Linked DNA regions of Homo sapiens: region 2 is linked to region 1. The links come from fine-mapping of genetic effects on gene expression. A gene starts in region 1. The other region holds a variant in brackets. All regions are shown on one strand. Distances are between the middles of the regions. Region 1 holds the start of SRBD1 (S1 RNA binding domain 1). Region 2 overlaps SRBD1 (S1 RNA binding domain 1).

Region 1 (8,156 bases):
GGCAGATCTTCCTTACTTAGTCTACTGATTCAAATGTCAGTCTCTTCTGGAAATACTCTCACAGACACACACAGAAGTAATGTTTTATCAGCTGTCTGAGCATCCCTTAATCCAGTCAAGATGACACCCAAAATTAACCATCACACTGATTGACTCTCAGAGATAAAATGTTTGAATTTTCATAAGTACACTTGATTTTTAAAATGGCAACCCACCTTCTGTGTCAAGAGCTTTAACTTACTTTTCTCATAAGAGAAATTTGTTTGTACTCTAGACATATTATTGGGTCCAGGAGTTAGTGTACTATTTTTAATGAGTACCTATTATATGTCAAGCATTATTAGGCACTGTGTGGGTGGCGGGAGAAGGTGGAGAGGGGAGGAAAATTTGTTTTTACTTTAGACATGTTTTTGGGTCCAGGAGTTAGTCTACTATATTATTGAGTACCTATTATATGTTAAGCATTATTAGGCACTGTGTAGGTGGAGGGAGAAGTTGGAGAGGGGGAGATAAAAAATTACCAAGAGTTAGTTCCTAGATCCAAATATCTATTAGTAGGTGAAACAGTTGCATCTATTAATATATTAAGAATTTTTGTTCTTATGAAACTTAGTTTGAGGCCAATAGAGAGAATAGCTTTGTTATGTTTCAGGTGGTTAGACAGTACTTTATTTAGAGTATTTAGAGATTCGACAGTTCTGGAGCACCTTAAACATTGAGAGTCTCACTGGCCACCATAGTGGAGCGAGAAAAGGTCTTTGCTTTGAGTTTGTGGTACAGCTGGCCATCTGTATCTGCATTCATGGATATGGAACCTGCAGATGTGGTGGGCCAACTTTTTCTATCACTGATTGGTTGAGTATCTGTAAATTTTGCTATCTGTGGGGGGTCCTCAGACCAATCCCCTGTGGATAGACAGCAAATTGTATGTGGATACCTTTCAGAGTACTTGCTTTGGAGTAAAGCAGATTATTGGATTTGAATCTCAGATCTACAATTTATTAGCTGATGTGACCTTAGATGAATTATTTAACTTCTTTATACCTGGTATTCTCATTTATAAAAATGGTTTAATAGCAATATTGCATTGGGGTAATATGTGAATTATATACATAAATACATCTAAAAGCATTAACTTAGTGCCTGGCACAGGTAAGTAATCAATAAAGGTAAGTTATTACTATTATTATTACATTTGCCCTGGGGAGCTAGAACCCATAGGGGAAGGACTTGAAAACAGATAATAACATACAAATGATAATGTATCAGTGAATATCATGGGAAGAGCTATATACTTTGGAGGGATAAAACAACCTCCATCAAATCCAAAACATGTTTTCATTACTCCCAAACCCTATTGCATAGTCTCAGGTGGGTGTCCGGATTATTCCAGGCTTTCAGTCTAAACCCATGAATTTCTTGGAATTCAGCACTTGAGATCCAAAAGTAAACAATAGATTGGGCAATGTCCTAGACAGAAAAGGCAGTTTTTGTGGGAGGGCCTGTTTTATACTTAAGTGATTACAAATTTTCCTTGACAGCGTGTAGTGGGAGTGACTCTCTTATAGAATTCCAAGGGAAATATTCTCTGGACAGTCCTTATTGGCCTTTAGAGTAGGCCACTACCTACATACTTTAATTTTAGAGAACCTGCTTCAGATTTTATTTTCCCCAGATGTCTGATGTCTAAAATCTTAACAGGCTATTTATTTTTGTGATTTTTTTTTTCTTCCCCAGCTGTAAGGCAAAAATCCCTTGTGGGGAGAGGAAAGTCAAGCTTCAATGCTTTGCTGGCCCACTCTTACTCTCCTCCTCACTGTAGTGTGGCTACTACCTGCATACCCAACCCTTGAAGCTAGACTGTTTTGCTTGGGTGTCTGTTTCCTCTGGCTGTATCTGGTTCCTACTCTTGGTCGTAAATTCCTCCAGGGCAGGACTTATGTCAAAAGACTTTGCAGTATATTAGTTCACCTTTACCCTTACTACCTCTGCAATGATTGGAATGTCCCCTTCAAAAATTCAAGTTGAAACTTGTCATTGTAATAGTATGAAGAGGTGGGACCTTTAGGAAATGATTAGGTCATGAATGAGTTAATTCCATTATCACAGGAGGGTTAGTTATTTCGGGAGTCAATTGGGTTCACATGCCTCCCCCACCCCTACCCCAGTATGATGCCCTCCATCATATTTTGACACAACAATAATGCCCTCTGTCTTGGACTTCCCAGCCTTCAGAACTACAAGCCAAACAAATCTCTTTCTTTATAAATCTACCAGTCTATGGTATTTGGTTACAGCAGCAGAAAATTGACCAAGACAACCCCTTACCATAAACCTGAGTAGCAAATGCAACATCAAAAGTAGGTGAATAGTAAGTAGTACATTATTGTTGTTGATTTCTATGATCTGGTTTCTCTTCCCACAATCCTGAACGGTAAGGTGTTCTCTAGTATTTCTTCAGGACCATAAATTGTGAAGGAGACTGTGATTGTAGTAGACAATTCTAGGCCTTCTGGAACCATCACTAAAGGCAACATACGACTGTGCTAATTAAAAGGAAAAAAAAATCCCTAAACAATCTCGGAAACTGATCTTTCCTGGCCAACAATCTCAGATATAGAAGATTAGATTTACTAAATTTAGAAAGAATCCTTTTTTTTTTCCCCCAATCACAAAAATTATCCAGTAAAATCTATGCTCACTTCCGGTAGATCTGCAACAAGGCACGGTCACAGGTCATTTCAATAACTTGCTAGGCTCTTCAGTACTCAGAGTCCCTGGAAATAAGTCATTAGCAGTGGAAAGCTGCTTTTTAGAATTTTCTAAAACAAATCCATGGGGTTTTGATCTGCTAAATTCGAATGTAGACAACAGCAGCCTTATTTCCCTACTTTTATAATCTAATTTATTTGGCTGTATCTGTGGGCTTAAGAGTTTAGTGTTCTTGGTAAATAACACGTAAAAAAAAAGTCATTTTTCATTTCTACGAACCAGCCCCACCCCGGCGCTCCCTCGGGATCCTCGCTCTAGCCCCGCCTCCGTCCAGCCTGGCTCCGCCCCGTTCGGTAGCGCCGCGCCTTGGAGGTCTGTGGCTAACTTGGTCCGGAAGAAGCGAGGCGGACCTTCTGGCGTTTGAAAAACTTCCGGCGGGAACCGGAAGGTGCGGTGGCACTCACGGAATCTCGGGTCTTCTGACGTGCCGGGCGGGAAGGTGAGCTGTGCGTGCGCCTTGGCGGTCGTCTTGCGGGTTCTCAAGAGCCCGGCGTCCGGGCTCCGGGATCTTTGGGGCCATTAAAAAAGTTCTGAGCGCTCATTTGGGCAATAACACCCCTTTTTTAAAAGTGAGAAGTTCATTACATTTTACTGTCAGCGGTCTCTCACAACCGACCACCCGAAAACCCCTCCTAGCTACCTCGTGACACCTCTTTTCAGCCAAATTGCTGCAGCTCTTAGCGCATAACAGACATAGAAAAGCCTGGGCAAGCCTGTTTTTTTTTTTTTTGAGACGGAGTCTCCCTCTGTCGCCCAGGCTGGAGTGTAGTGGAGCGATCTCGGCTCACTGCAAGCTCCGCCTCCCGGATTCACGCCATTCGCCTGCCTCAGCCTCCCGAGTAGCTGGGGCTACAGGCGCCCGTCATCACACCCGGCTAATTTACCTGGATTGTTTTTATACCTAAAATTATCGGAGGTGGGAGAGGAAGCACCCTTTTCACGGTCATGGTGGCCCTGTCTGAATCAACTGCACCTTCTGTAGTGCGCCTGGCATGTAGGAGGCGCTCAGTAACCGGAGGAAAGGAATGAATTGGGAACTCTCTAGGCAACTTTCCTCGAACCCCTCACGTGACATGTCATTAACATATTGTGTGTGGAATGGGAAACGAGACTAGTCTTGGTGTTCCAGGCACTGGGCTATAGTCCTTTGCCACATATCTTTCCCCTTTGAGTAAACTGTTTCACCTCATTGGGTCTCAGATTTCTGAATATAGCGGGACTGTCTGATCTCAGGTTCTTTCAGCTCTAGTATTTTGTTTTTGTGACTTGGGAATCTGCTAACATTCAAGCACTCTGTTGGTCCTTCATGGAAACTTGTTTAGGTGCTTCTTAAGAAATTGTCCTCCTTTGTTTGCCTTCTTGAATTTAAATTTTTTTTTCCAATTTTAATTTAGTATTTGTTAGTGTGCACGTCCTTTTGCCCCTTTGTCCTGATTTGCAGTCGTCCTAGTTTAGTGGCTCTTCCCTTAGTAACATCATAGCAACCTCCAAATTATTGGTTTGGAATATGCTCATGTGCCTACAGTGATTAAGATAGTTTGAAAGGAGGGAAAAATCCCAAGTCACTGAAGAATAGGAATATTCTTATGTGCCATCACTTCTTCAGAAAGAGATGAATGCAATGTGTGGCATTGCCTAAGAGTGGTGGAAAATAAATGTATATTCCTCTGTAGAGACCATATTTGTACATATTATGTTCATTTAATAGTTGTAGGGCATCTGTTAAGTGCTAGGTTCTATGATATGGAAGTGAATAAGGCACATGCATTTCCTTCTTTCATGGTATTTACTCTCTTGACAGCAGTGCAAGCAATAAACAAGTAAAATAAAAATAATTACAGATTGTGTTATAACCTACTGTATACAGGAAGTAAATAGGCTCCTTTTAAAATATAATTGAGAAACCTATTTTAGGCCTGAAATGTTAAGATCTAAGGGATGCAAGGAGCCAGCCAATTGACAAGCAGGGGGAAGAATACTCCAGGCAGAGAGTACCTGAGGTGGGAAAGAATGTTATGACAAGAGCTGAGGAGCTCCAGCAAGTAGTAAAGGTGGTTAGAAAGGTGAGCAGGGCTCAGTCCGACAGGGCCTTTTCAAAGGCCTCATAAAAATGTGGCTTGATTCTAAGTGAAGGATGGGGTGGGAAGTAATTCGTTGTTTCTAAAGCATATTCTAAATGATCTTGAGTTGATAAGTGGAGAATGAGTTGCAGGGGCAAGAGTGGAAGTAGGGAGGGCAGTTAAGAGGCGAGTGTGGTAGTTCAAGTGAGGGAGGTTGAGGACTAAAGGCTCACTGAAGATCGTGGAGATTCAAGACATTTTGGAGGAGGATCTTATGTGACTTACTAATAGTCTGGATATGTGAGATGAAAGAAAAAAAGATTTGTAACATTTTGACTTAGCAAATGGAACTTTGGAGGATGATAATGTGTTCATTTTCTTGATTGTAGTGATATGTATACATATGTCAAAACATCAAATTTGCACACTTTAAACATGTGCAGTGTATTGCATGTCAATTATATGTCAATGAAGCTGTTAAAGAATTTTCTGGCCAGGCGCCATGGCTCACACTTGTAATCCCAGCACTTTGGGAGGCCGAGGCAGGCAGATCACCTGAGGCCAGGAGTTCGAGACCAGCCTGGCCAACGTGACGAACCCCGTCTCTATCAAAAATAGAAAAATTAGCTGGGTGTGGTGGTACACGCCTGTAATCCCAGTTACTTAGGAGGCTAAGGCAGGAGAATTGCTTGAACCTGGGAGGCAGAGTTTGCAGTGAGCTGAGATCACTCCAGGCTGGGTGACAGAGTGAGACCGTCTCAAAAAAAAAAAAAAATTTTTTTTTTCAAGGTTCTGGCTTAGCAAATAGGTGGGTGCCACTTATTGAGATGGGAAGGACTGGAATAGGAACAGGTTTTAGAGCAAGAAATGGTCATCAAGAGTTCCATTGTGGATGTGTTAAGTTAACTGTGAGACATCTAAATAGTTTCAGAGACAGGCAGTTTATTATAGAAATCTGAATGTTAAAGGCACGGTTTGGGATGGAGGGATTAGGATTGTTAATAAGTAGGTGACATCGGTATGTAAAACCGTGGAGATGGATGAGGTTTTGGTTAATCTAACAAGTTTTATGACACAAAGTAAGAGGATATGGGAGTAGTGGAGATGGAGAAACAGGCCTCAAGAATATTGGTGTTTAAACTGGAGAATACATACTCCTGGGGGTGTACCTGTCGTAGGTAGTTTTAAAGACATAATTTCCAAGTCTTCAGCTTTTGTATATATTCTTTCTAAATCTGATCTGCTTGAAATTGGCTTGTGTGTTCATGCAGATTCTGCTTTCCCACCTTTCCTTTTACATTGATATTTTTAACATTTGTGAAAAGAAATATTACAACTCACTCATCTTTCCATGGTATATTGCTTTCGGGGTGCCTTATAAAGAGGCAGTTGGAAATATTTGATTTAGGGGAGCCTTCTTTAAGGATAATGGTTAAGCAAAAACATAAGCCTGCCAAGGGTTTGCCTGTCCCTATTTTAAACACATTTCTGTTAAGGCTGAAGTGTGGAGATAGAATTAGTATATGGTAGTCTGTGTGGGAATGTTCTGAATTCAGGCATATTGTAGAATGTGGTGGTAGGAGTGATTGTAAGGTGATCTGGGTGGGTTGTTTGATGGGAAGCTTAGCACCTTCAAGTTTTTACTCTTGGACTGGTTAGATTCTCCAGAGAAAAGCCTTCCCATTCTCCTCCCTAGAGGGCAGTATTTTAGGAATTTAGTGGCGGAAGACTAGGGTTCTCTGCCTTTAGCATTCAGTCTGTATGGTTCCCATGCCCACAGTCTAGACTGTTTCATTAATACCTTCTCCAGAGAATAAACTTACAGTCTTTTTCCTGGGGCAGTTGCCTAATAGCATGAAGTGAGGTAGGACACTTAGAGATATTCCTTTGTCAGTTTATACACAGCCCTAACCCGTTTCACCTTTAATTCCAAAGGTATCAGCTACTGCTTCATATGAATTTTTTTTTTTTAGAATACTGCAGGGTAAATTGGTTTGGTTCTCATATGCTCCCACTACTGGCTTGGGATTTTAATTTTTATGTGTTGCAATTTGTTAGTCTTTTTGGTTTTGGAATTTTGAGGAGTCATATTTAGGAAAACCTCCATTTCCCCATCTCCCCTCAATAGTGTGAAAAGAATCACCTTTATTTCTTAGTTCTTTTATAGTTTTAATTTGTACATTTTAAACTATTAGTTATTGGGGAATAAATTTTTGTTAATGGTGTGGAGGTAGGAATTAAACTCCTTTTTTTCTTCTAGAGGAATAGCTAGTTGTCTCAATACCATTTATTGAATAATCCATTTTTACCCTGCCCTGATTTTAAATGCCACCCTTGTCATACACTAACTTCCTCCATTCTTATTTTGTTGTGGTAAGATACACATAATATAAAAATCACAATTACCTGTTCTTTCATGATCAATGTCTAAAAAATACTAATTTGAGAAAGGATGATCTTTATAACCTAATATGCCAAAAAGAGAGTGAAGGGAAAGATGGAAGATTATCCTGTCTACTTCCTGCAGACTGCTTTCCTGTTGTTCTTTTGGTTCCCTCTGAGCACTATTTTGCCCAATCATTGTGTACTTACTGGACTGAGTTGAGCTATAGCTGCTGGGAGAACATATTCCCTTTTGTGACAACCCCTTTAGTATTTCCATGAGAGATTATTTCCTCTTCTAAGCGGATGTTAGAACCAGAGGCATTATAACATATGACTGGGTCAGAAACTTGTTTAAAGGGTTCCAAACATGTCAGAGCCTAGTGTAGTCCTTATAGTTTGATGGTTTTATGGTAATAATATCAGGCAGCCACTTATAAAGTCCTTTATTAATTAATTTTAACAGCTAATTAATCTTAACAGCTAAAGTAATTTTATTTACTTTCCCGTATTATGTGATGTCTCTGGTTATTTGTCTTAACTTTTTTTTACAGCTTGGCCTTCGAATTTGGTAAATAGTTTTTAGTCACATAGTGATTAATCATTTTATTTAAGTTTAATGAACTTTTATTATAAGGGAATGATTATCTTGTTTTAAGAATAACCTGGCTGCTTACTCAGTCAATCAGCATCATTTATTTCATTGCCAACTTTGTAGAGAGACCTCTACTTTATTCATTAAGAATATATAGAATAGGCTGGGCACAGTGACTCATGCCTGTAATCCCAGCACTTTGGGAGGCCGAGGTGGGCGGATCACCTGAGGTCGGGAGTTCAAGACCAGCCTGACCAACATGGAGAAATGCTGTCTCTACTAAAAAATACAAAATTAGCCGGGTGTGTTGGCGCATGCCTGTAATCCCAGCTACTAGGGAGGCTGAG
Region 2 (8,156 bases), 56 kb after region 1:
TGTTTTTCATGTAGTAGGTTTAAGGGAAACTGTCTCTACTTTAAATGTGGAAAAAAGAAAGCCCAGTGGAGAGAGCCTGTCTTTATCTTATATATATGAAGTTGGGAGAGCATATTTCTTTGCCAAAGTGGAGAATATTTCTTTGGAGGAGTTTGTGATCCCTCACCTCAGTTTTGTGCTTCATTGTATGCAACATACATAGCATGTGTTTTGCAATGTATATTTGGTTTAAGTGAGTCCTCCTTAGTTTTATTCAGATGTATTTAACTGTTGAATTAGAGGAAGAATCAAGTTTTGAGATGACTTCCTGTAAGGCAAACCCATCATATTTTCTTTAAGTTTAAAGATTTAAGCAACAGGGTTTGTGAATTTACTATACTATTTCAGGTTCCTTAGTATGCTAAGTGCCTTCAATAAATCCCAGGAAGCCGGTGAAGGGCAGGAATTGTTTTGGTGTAAGGAGCAAAAAGGAGTTTCTATAATGTAGGAAATGAATGTAGCTGTTCTCTTTCAGGGCTGGGTCTAGTGGTCTAAAGTTCAACTGAATGGGCATGATTGAGGCATCCTCAAGTATTAAATAGACCCATAGCTCTCTGTTCCAGGAAGGGGAGGAGAGCAGTCCAAGCCAAGGGAGGATCTTGAGACTTGAAGAAGACTACTGGGGGTTTGAGAGGGTATGGGTAGGTGATATTTAAGATTTCTGGCTTTTTCCTGCAAGCAGTGGCTTAAAGGGCAACACCTTAGGAGACAAATCAGATACATACATTAAAACAAATCCCTCTGTTAGGGTCTTCCTACCTCTAAGGACTATCTGTCTAGCATACTGTTGCATGATTCAGGACTATGTTCTCTCTCCTACCTCGTCAGGCTCCATAGCTTTGTGTATAAGACCCTTTATGATCCAGCCACTGCCACATTTTCTACCCTCATCTTTCCTCCTGTTGATCTTGCCACTTTATTTCCTAGAAGCGCTAACCTTATAGTTACTTCAATTTACCGTGCTTTTTCATGCCTCTAAGCTTTTACATATGCTATAATTTCTTCCCAGAATGCCCTTATTCTTTTGTCTTGCTTGGCAAACTACAATTCATTAAAAAAACCTATCTCAGATGTTTCTTTTGGGAAGTCTTTCTTGACATTGGATTCCCCATATTAATAATAACAGCAGCAGCAGCAGCAGCAAAAACTTACATAGAATGTATTAGGCACCATTATAAGTCCCTTGCTTATGTTAACTCACAACAATTCAATGAAGTAGACTATTATTACTCCCATTTTACTGATGAAGAAATAGTAGCACAGATATACTTAAGTAAATCCACCATGAACATAGAGCAAGGCCAGACATGGTGGGTCACGCCTATAATCCCAGCACTTTGGGAGGCCAAAGCAGGTAGATCACTTGAGGTCAGCAGTTCGAGACTGGCCTGCACAAAGTGGTGAAAACCTGTCTCTGCTAAAAATACAAAAATTAGCTGGGCGGGATGGCGCACGTCTGTAGTCCCAGCTACTCGGGAGGCTGAGGCAGGAGAATGGCTTGAACCTGGGAGGTGGAGGTTGCAATGAGCCAAGATTGTGCCTCTGCACTCCAGCCTGGGTGACAGAATGAGATGAGACTCTGTCTCAAAAAAAAAAAAAAAAAAAAAAAAAAAGTAATAGAGCATAGAGCAGAACAGATCATACTTTTAACTAGTATATTATACTGCTGTTTGCTGTCACTTCTGCTTTTGAGCTCTTCATATCTTTAACATTTATTTCTGTTTTTACATTTATTGTGCCATACATTTGTTTAGATATTTGTTTCATTGAAAAAAGGTGTGTTTGTTGAATTCATGCCTTTTTTCAATGGAGTAGAGAAATCCTACTCCTCTGTATCCCTAATTCCTTCAGGCAAATGTTACAGTAGGGAGCAGCAGGGATTTAGGTGGAAGGAAGGATGTATATCCTGCCTAAAAGCACTTCCACTAAAATTTAAAAACTGTATGACACTTTCTATGGAAGAGATTCAGTTAGTTGCTATTATGTAATCTTTGGAATAAAACATTGTAAGTGCTTAAATGTTTGTTCAGTGAAATGTAGTTCATTTCCTAGCCTAAGATAAGTAAAGGGGATGAGAGTACCCTTAAGGTAATATTAATTAATATTTTGTTAATGGTTTTCATTCAAGAGGGCAAGGGCAGAGATGCTGTAGATGGATGAAAACACAGAATGGATAGTATCATAGGACCAACAGGTTTATATGCCCACTGTGCCGTAACAGACTAATACACCAAGACAGCAGGGTTTGTAGCAGAGAAAAGAGTTTAATGGGCCTGGCGAGGTAGCTCACGCCTGCAATCCCAGCACTTTGGGAGGCTGACATGGGCAGATCACGAGGTCAGGAGATCGAGACCATCCTGGCTAATACAGTGAAACCCCATCTCTACTAAAAATACAAAAACAAAAAATTAGCCGGGTATGGTGGCGCCTGTAGTCCCAGCTACTCAGGAGGCTGAGGCAGGAGAATGGCATGAACCCAGGAGGTGGAGGTTGCAGTGGGCCGGGATCGCGCCACTGCACTCCAGCCTGGGCGACAGAGCAGGACTCCGTCTCAAAAAAAAAAAAAAAAAAAAGGGTTTAATGATTGCAGGGCACTGAGTGAAGAGATGGGAGGAGGCCTTGAAATCCATTTTTCCAAAAAATTCTGGGCTGGGTTTTTTTTGTTTGTTTTGTTTTTGTTTTTAAGAAAGGGTCTCTGTTGCTTAGCTGTAGTGCAGTGGTGCATCATGGCTTACTACAGCTTCAACCTCCTGGGCTCAAGTGATCCTCCTGCTTCAGCCTTCTAAGTAGCAGGGACTACAGGCACACACCAACACATCCAGCTAAATTTTTATTTTTTGTAGAGACAAGGTCTGGCTATGTTGCCCAGACTAGTCTTGAACTCCAAGTGATCCTCCCACTTTGGCCTCTGGAAGGCCATACTCTGGGATTACAGATGTGAGTTACTGTGCCCAGCCTGGGCTAGGATTTTTAAGGGGATCGTGGAGGGAAAGGAGCTGGAAATTTGTGGTCTTTGATTGGTTGGGGTAAGGGGGATAAAATCATCAGCATATGGAAACTGTACTGTTTGGTGAGTCAGCTTCTTGGTGGGAGTCTTTCATAGTAGCTGATGTCAGTAGTTTCATTGGTACACAGGACCTGAAAGAGTATTCAAATGGAAAACTTAACATTTCATAATGTTCAGGTTGTTACCTATAGAGCAGTTAAGGGGAGCTATAATCTAGTAACAGGGTCTGTGTGATTCTAGGACAGTAGGCACCAAACAACTATGAGGAAGCAGGTCAGAGAGTGAGCTGACCTCATGATTAATGCTGAATGTGCTGCCAGCTTGGTTTATTTTCATTTCTAGCCCTCCTTTCTTTCCTGATTAATTTTATAAGGTTTATAGGGACCGTTTCAGTGAGGCTACATTTGTCCTTTTAGCTTGTGATTTTCTCTTCTATTCTTTCCCCAGTGTTCATTAACAATTGGTTCTGTGGCATTTATAGTCCTCATTACATATGCAGATGTTGCCTGGTAGAGCATTGTGGCCTGAGCAATAGAGTAAGTTCTCAGAAATGGCAAGAGGCAAGGGTTGAAACAGAGTTTCTGCTTTGCTCAGTCTACTTTAACTCTCAGAAAGAGATAAAGAAAGGGGGAAAAAAGGATACAGTGGCTGTCTTAACTTGGACTAACATAACAAAATACCACAGACTATGTGGCTTCAACCGGAGTAATTTATTTTCTCATAGTTCTGGAGGCTGAGAAGTCCAAGATCAAAATGCCAGCTGATTCATTTTCTGGTGAGGGCTGCCCTCCTTGGCTTGTAGACAGCTGCATTCTTGCTGTGTCCTCACATGGTTGAGAAAGAGAGAGAAAGAGCAAGCCCTCTGTTATCTCTTCTTATCAGGGCACTGATTCCATCCTGAGAGCCCCACCCTTATGACTTCATCTAAACCTGATTATCCCCCAAAAGCCCCATCTTCAAGGTATGGATATGGGGAGGGACACAATTCAGTCTGTAGCAGTGGTGTAATAATTTTTTGGTGACTTTCTTGTATCTTAAGATTTTGGCCATTATTAATAATGCTTTGGAGACCCTTTACTGAAGAGGAAATTTTTTCCTTGTTTTATATCTGACCATAGATAGTTACTAGGATTTTTAAAATAAAAACTCCAGATGTCATAGTAATAATTTTCAGATACCACAGCCTTTCCTCACAGATTATGTTACTTTGGCTTCAATAAAGGTTTTCCCC[G/C]CTTCTGTATTCCATCTCCCTTCTTTTTGGGAGCCTTTTTATGGCCTTATTTATTGTTGCATCAGTTTTAGTGTGGGCTTTTCTGTTTTGCAGGTGGAGACCACGTAGCTTTGCAAGGCCAGAGTTAATGAAGATCTTATATAATTCACTGAATGATTCCTTTAAACGCCTTATTTATCCTCTTCTCTGTAGAGAATTCAGGTATATATCTTGTCTTGTTTAATTTTGTGTACTGATTATTGTTATATGATACTAGTACCATTACAGTGTGTAGCTAATGTTTGTTGATTGATTAACCAATCGAAAGAATTTAGTCAGCATCACAAAGTGTTAAAGTTAAGGCTTGATTTCAATCTGTAGATGCATTCACATGCATAGATCATAAAAATAGTTCTTAATTATGATATGTTTTTCAAATCTTGACCACTTAATGTGTACCCCTTGAAATCCTGCAATACTAGTCTTGCAGCTGGAGGCAGTTTTTAGAGGTAAGAGAGCCAAAGAAAGCATAAGGAAATCAGTAGGGTACATGATGAATCAATTACTTTGTTTTTAACTCCAAATGGGAGTTATTTGGATGAAAAATTATCAGCAATGATAAATATTAGGAGATTATTAAAATGGCAATGTGAACGGACTAATAGAAGGACTAAGTAATATAGATGAAAACTGCAAAAGAGGTGAGGTGCAGAATTGTTTTCAGGACAGAAGATGGAAAGAAAAGAAATGTAGGGAGGCAAAACTCCTCTCTCTTGCTTCTCTGTAACCCTTGTTTTTGCACCCAATCTTTAGAAACTAGACATTCCCTAATTCATTCCTTCCAAAATATTATAGATTATCTTCATTCTCATTTCTTTGTAGGTTTCAGCAAGGGCTACTTGAAAACTGTAGTTTTGTAGCCATCTCTTCAACCTCTCTAGAATTTTTAGCAGCCTATGTAGGGCTTGTTTCTCTTTTGCTGGACTTGACCATTGAATTAAGATGGGTTCAGAGCAGGGAGTGAGCAGGTACTATTAAAAAAGACACATAGTCCTGTTGTCCAATTTCTTTTTACCAAAGTCATTTAATCTCTTGTTACATCCATTTTAGCCTAGATGTAGCCTAAAAATATTGTTCCTTTTAGAATTGTATTTCACTTCAAGCTGTCTAACATCGCTTGCTTTTGAGAGCTAGGGCATACACTTTAAAAATTAGGAATTTGGTTCTTCCTGAAGGAAAAAATTATGTTATTTAAAATTTCAATTTCTTTTTGTATGTTTTTCTTTTTATTGTTTTCTCATGTTGCTTATGTCTAGTGGCACTTTTGACATTTTTTGCATATATTTTTGATTTGAGTAGCTTCACTGCATGTGGAATAATTTCATCAAGGTTTAATGTAAACAGTTTGATGTGGGATCATTTAATGTATAAACTGTTTCTGAATTCCATTAGCAGTAGATAAGCAAGAGTACTTTCTCTTTCTTTTTCTAAAATGCCCATGGTTAAAATAATATAACTTATTTCAGTTTATAAGTTAGTTTGCAGGTATTATCTACAGATACGCCTCCTGATAGGAATACTTAACCTGAATAGCAGTTAAAGAGGAGGACACTCCCACTTGGTTTGTTTTTTAGACCATTTTATTTTGCAGTCACTTAATTTGGTTGACTGTATACTATGCATAGCCTACGTCTGCATATCTTATTCCCGTGACTGTCATGATCATTCATCCATGTGTCATTTTTCACATCTATCTCTGTCATCAGTTCTACATTGTCAGTTACAAAGTGCTATCTATTTTGCCATCTTTTATTATAACTTGAATTTTTCCTCCCCTTTATCTCCGTGGTGACTGTCTTAATTCAGGACATCATCATTTTTTGTCTGGATTACTGAACTAGCGTCATAGATGATCTTGGTCTTCTGTCTTGTCTTTTCCAATGCATATTACAAATCGCCCTTTCAAAATTCTCATCTCACAATTTCATGCTTGTATACTTCTTTCAGCTGATCTTGTTTGTCTCCAGGATAGAATCCAAGCTCTTGAGAAGAACATGCATGACCCTTTGTGATCTGTTTTTTTCTTGCCTCTACTTCTGTCTCGCTGTTTCTTTTTACTTTAGCATACGAAATTACTTGCTGTTTCTATGATGAGCCATGAGCCTTTACATATGCTGTTTCCATTGTCCGGGATATTTTCTCCCTGCCCACTGTGCCTACTTTTGTTTGCATCCCATGTGACATTCAAATGTGCGTACACTCTCTGTCTTTCTCACATATACACATATTTATAAATATGGGTTTTATATACAGTAGAGAGCAGATAGAGAGGTAATGTAGGTATGATAAACTTACAAGACTTGCTTCAGAATTGCTTGTGGTATCATATTACTGTGATTAGTGAAAATAGACTCAATATAATTTTTGTATATTTTTCTCTTAAGTTATATTGTTATAATAAATTATCCTTTGAGAAATAATTGTACAAAATGAATTCTGCTCCTTTTCTGGAAAGAAAATTTGGGTGAATGAAAAACTTTTTCTTTTCTTCTATTTCTAAAGAGCCAAACTAACATCAGATGCAGAGAAGGAATCAGTAATGATGTTTGGACGGAACCTTCGTCAGCTCCTTTTAACAAGCCCTGTTCCAGGGCGCACCTTAATGGGAGTGGATCCTGGTTATAAACATGGTTGCAAATTAGCTATAATTTCTCCTACTAGTAAGTTGTCTTGCAATTTTCCATGTAAAAGTTGTTTGGTTGGTTATAAGTTTCACTTCATACATTTCATGAGGATTTGGAAATAATGTTAATTTTAAAGGCTTAAAAAGTGGTTTTCTCACATACAGGGGTGTTGGGAACCAGATAATCAAACTTCATTTTTCTCTCATTTGTTGATCAAACTCCTCAATATACAACTATCATTTATATGCTTCCTATATCTCAGTAGAGATATTGAGGATTAATTAGGCTCGGACTTGAACTCTATTAATTCCCCATCAGATTCTATTATTGTGATGCATTTATATATGATGCATTTTAATTCTGCTTATATTTTAAATACCAAAAGACATTTTTATTGTTTTGCTCAATTTTTTTTCCTGTTTACTTACATTTACACTGATATTCTTCATTTCTTTTGCATTTCCGTGCTTCCATTTGAGATCATTTTCTTTCTGCCTGAAGAACTCTATGCTATTACTTTTAATGAGTCACATTGTCTTAGTTTTAGTTTGTCTGAAAACATCTCTGTTTTGCCTTCATTTTTGAAGAATATTTTTTGCTTGGTGTAGAATTCAAGATTGGCAGTTACTTTCAGTACTTTAAAGATGTCATTCTTTTTTTTTTTTTTGGCTACTGTAATTTTTGTTGAGAAGTCAGCCAAACTGTGGTTATTTGTTATTGTTCCTTTGAAGGTAATATGTCCTTTTCCTCTGGCTGCTAAGATTTTCTCTTTGTGTTTCTCAGTTTTCTTATGATGTGCTTCAGTGGGTGTGTATGTATGGGTTTTCTTGTCTTTTCTTTTCTGCATGAATTCCACTTAGGGTTTGTGGAGCTTCTAGCATCTCTTTCTGGAACTCCAATTACATACATATTATACCTTTCAGTTTCTTCTCTCCTTTTTGTTTATTTTCTGTTGATCATCTAAGTTAATTAATCCTCTATCCTGCTATGTCTAATTTGTTACTAAAACCATCTACTGGGTTCAAGTGGTTGGTTTTTCAGTTTTAGAATTTCCATTTGATACTTTGAAAAATAGGGTTATAGCTCCCTATGAACTTCTTTATTTCTAATGTTTTTGATCTTTTAACTTCTTGTTTTATTTTCTATTAGCCTTTACTATTTTAATTTTTTAAGTTTAGATTTTCATTTCTGAAATAATTTTTTCTTTCATCTCGAA

The links. PIP is the estimated chance that this variant, and not a neighbour inherited with it, causes the effect.
Region 2: its variant is fine-mapped to the expression of SRBD1 in whole blood (INTERVAL, PIP above 0.99).

The regions. Positions count from the first base shown.
Region 1 is chr2:45,606,274-45,614,429 of GRCh38, reverse strand. It overlaps SRBD1 (S1 RNA binding domain 1), which reads left to right and starts at 3,163. Exons shown (of 21, transcript NM_018079.5): 1 at 3,163-3,211. RefSeq lists an enhancer at 3,343-3,512.
Region 2 is chr2:45,549,945-45,558,100 of GRCh38, reverse strand. SRBD1 (S1 RNA binding domain 1) reads left to right here. Exons shown (of 21, transcript NM_018079.5): 11 at 4,371-4,478; 12 at 6,819-6,976. Among named protein-coding and RNA genes, the nearest start is that of SRBD1, 57 kb to the left of the region's middle. The variant G/C (reference allele first, on the strand shown) is at 4,278.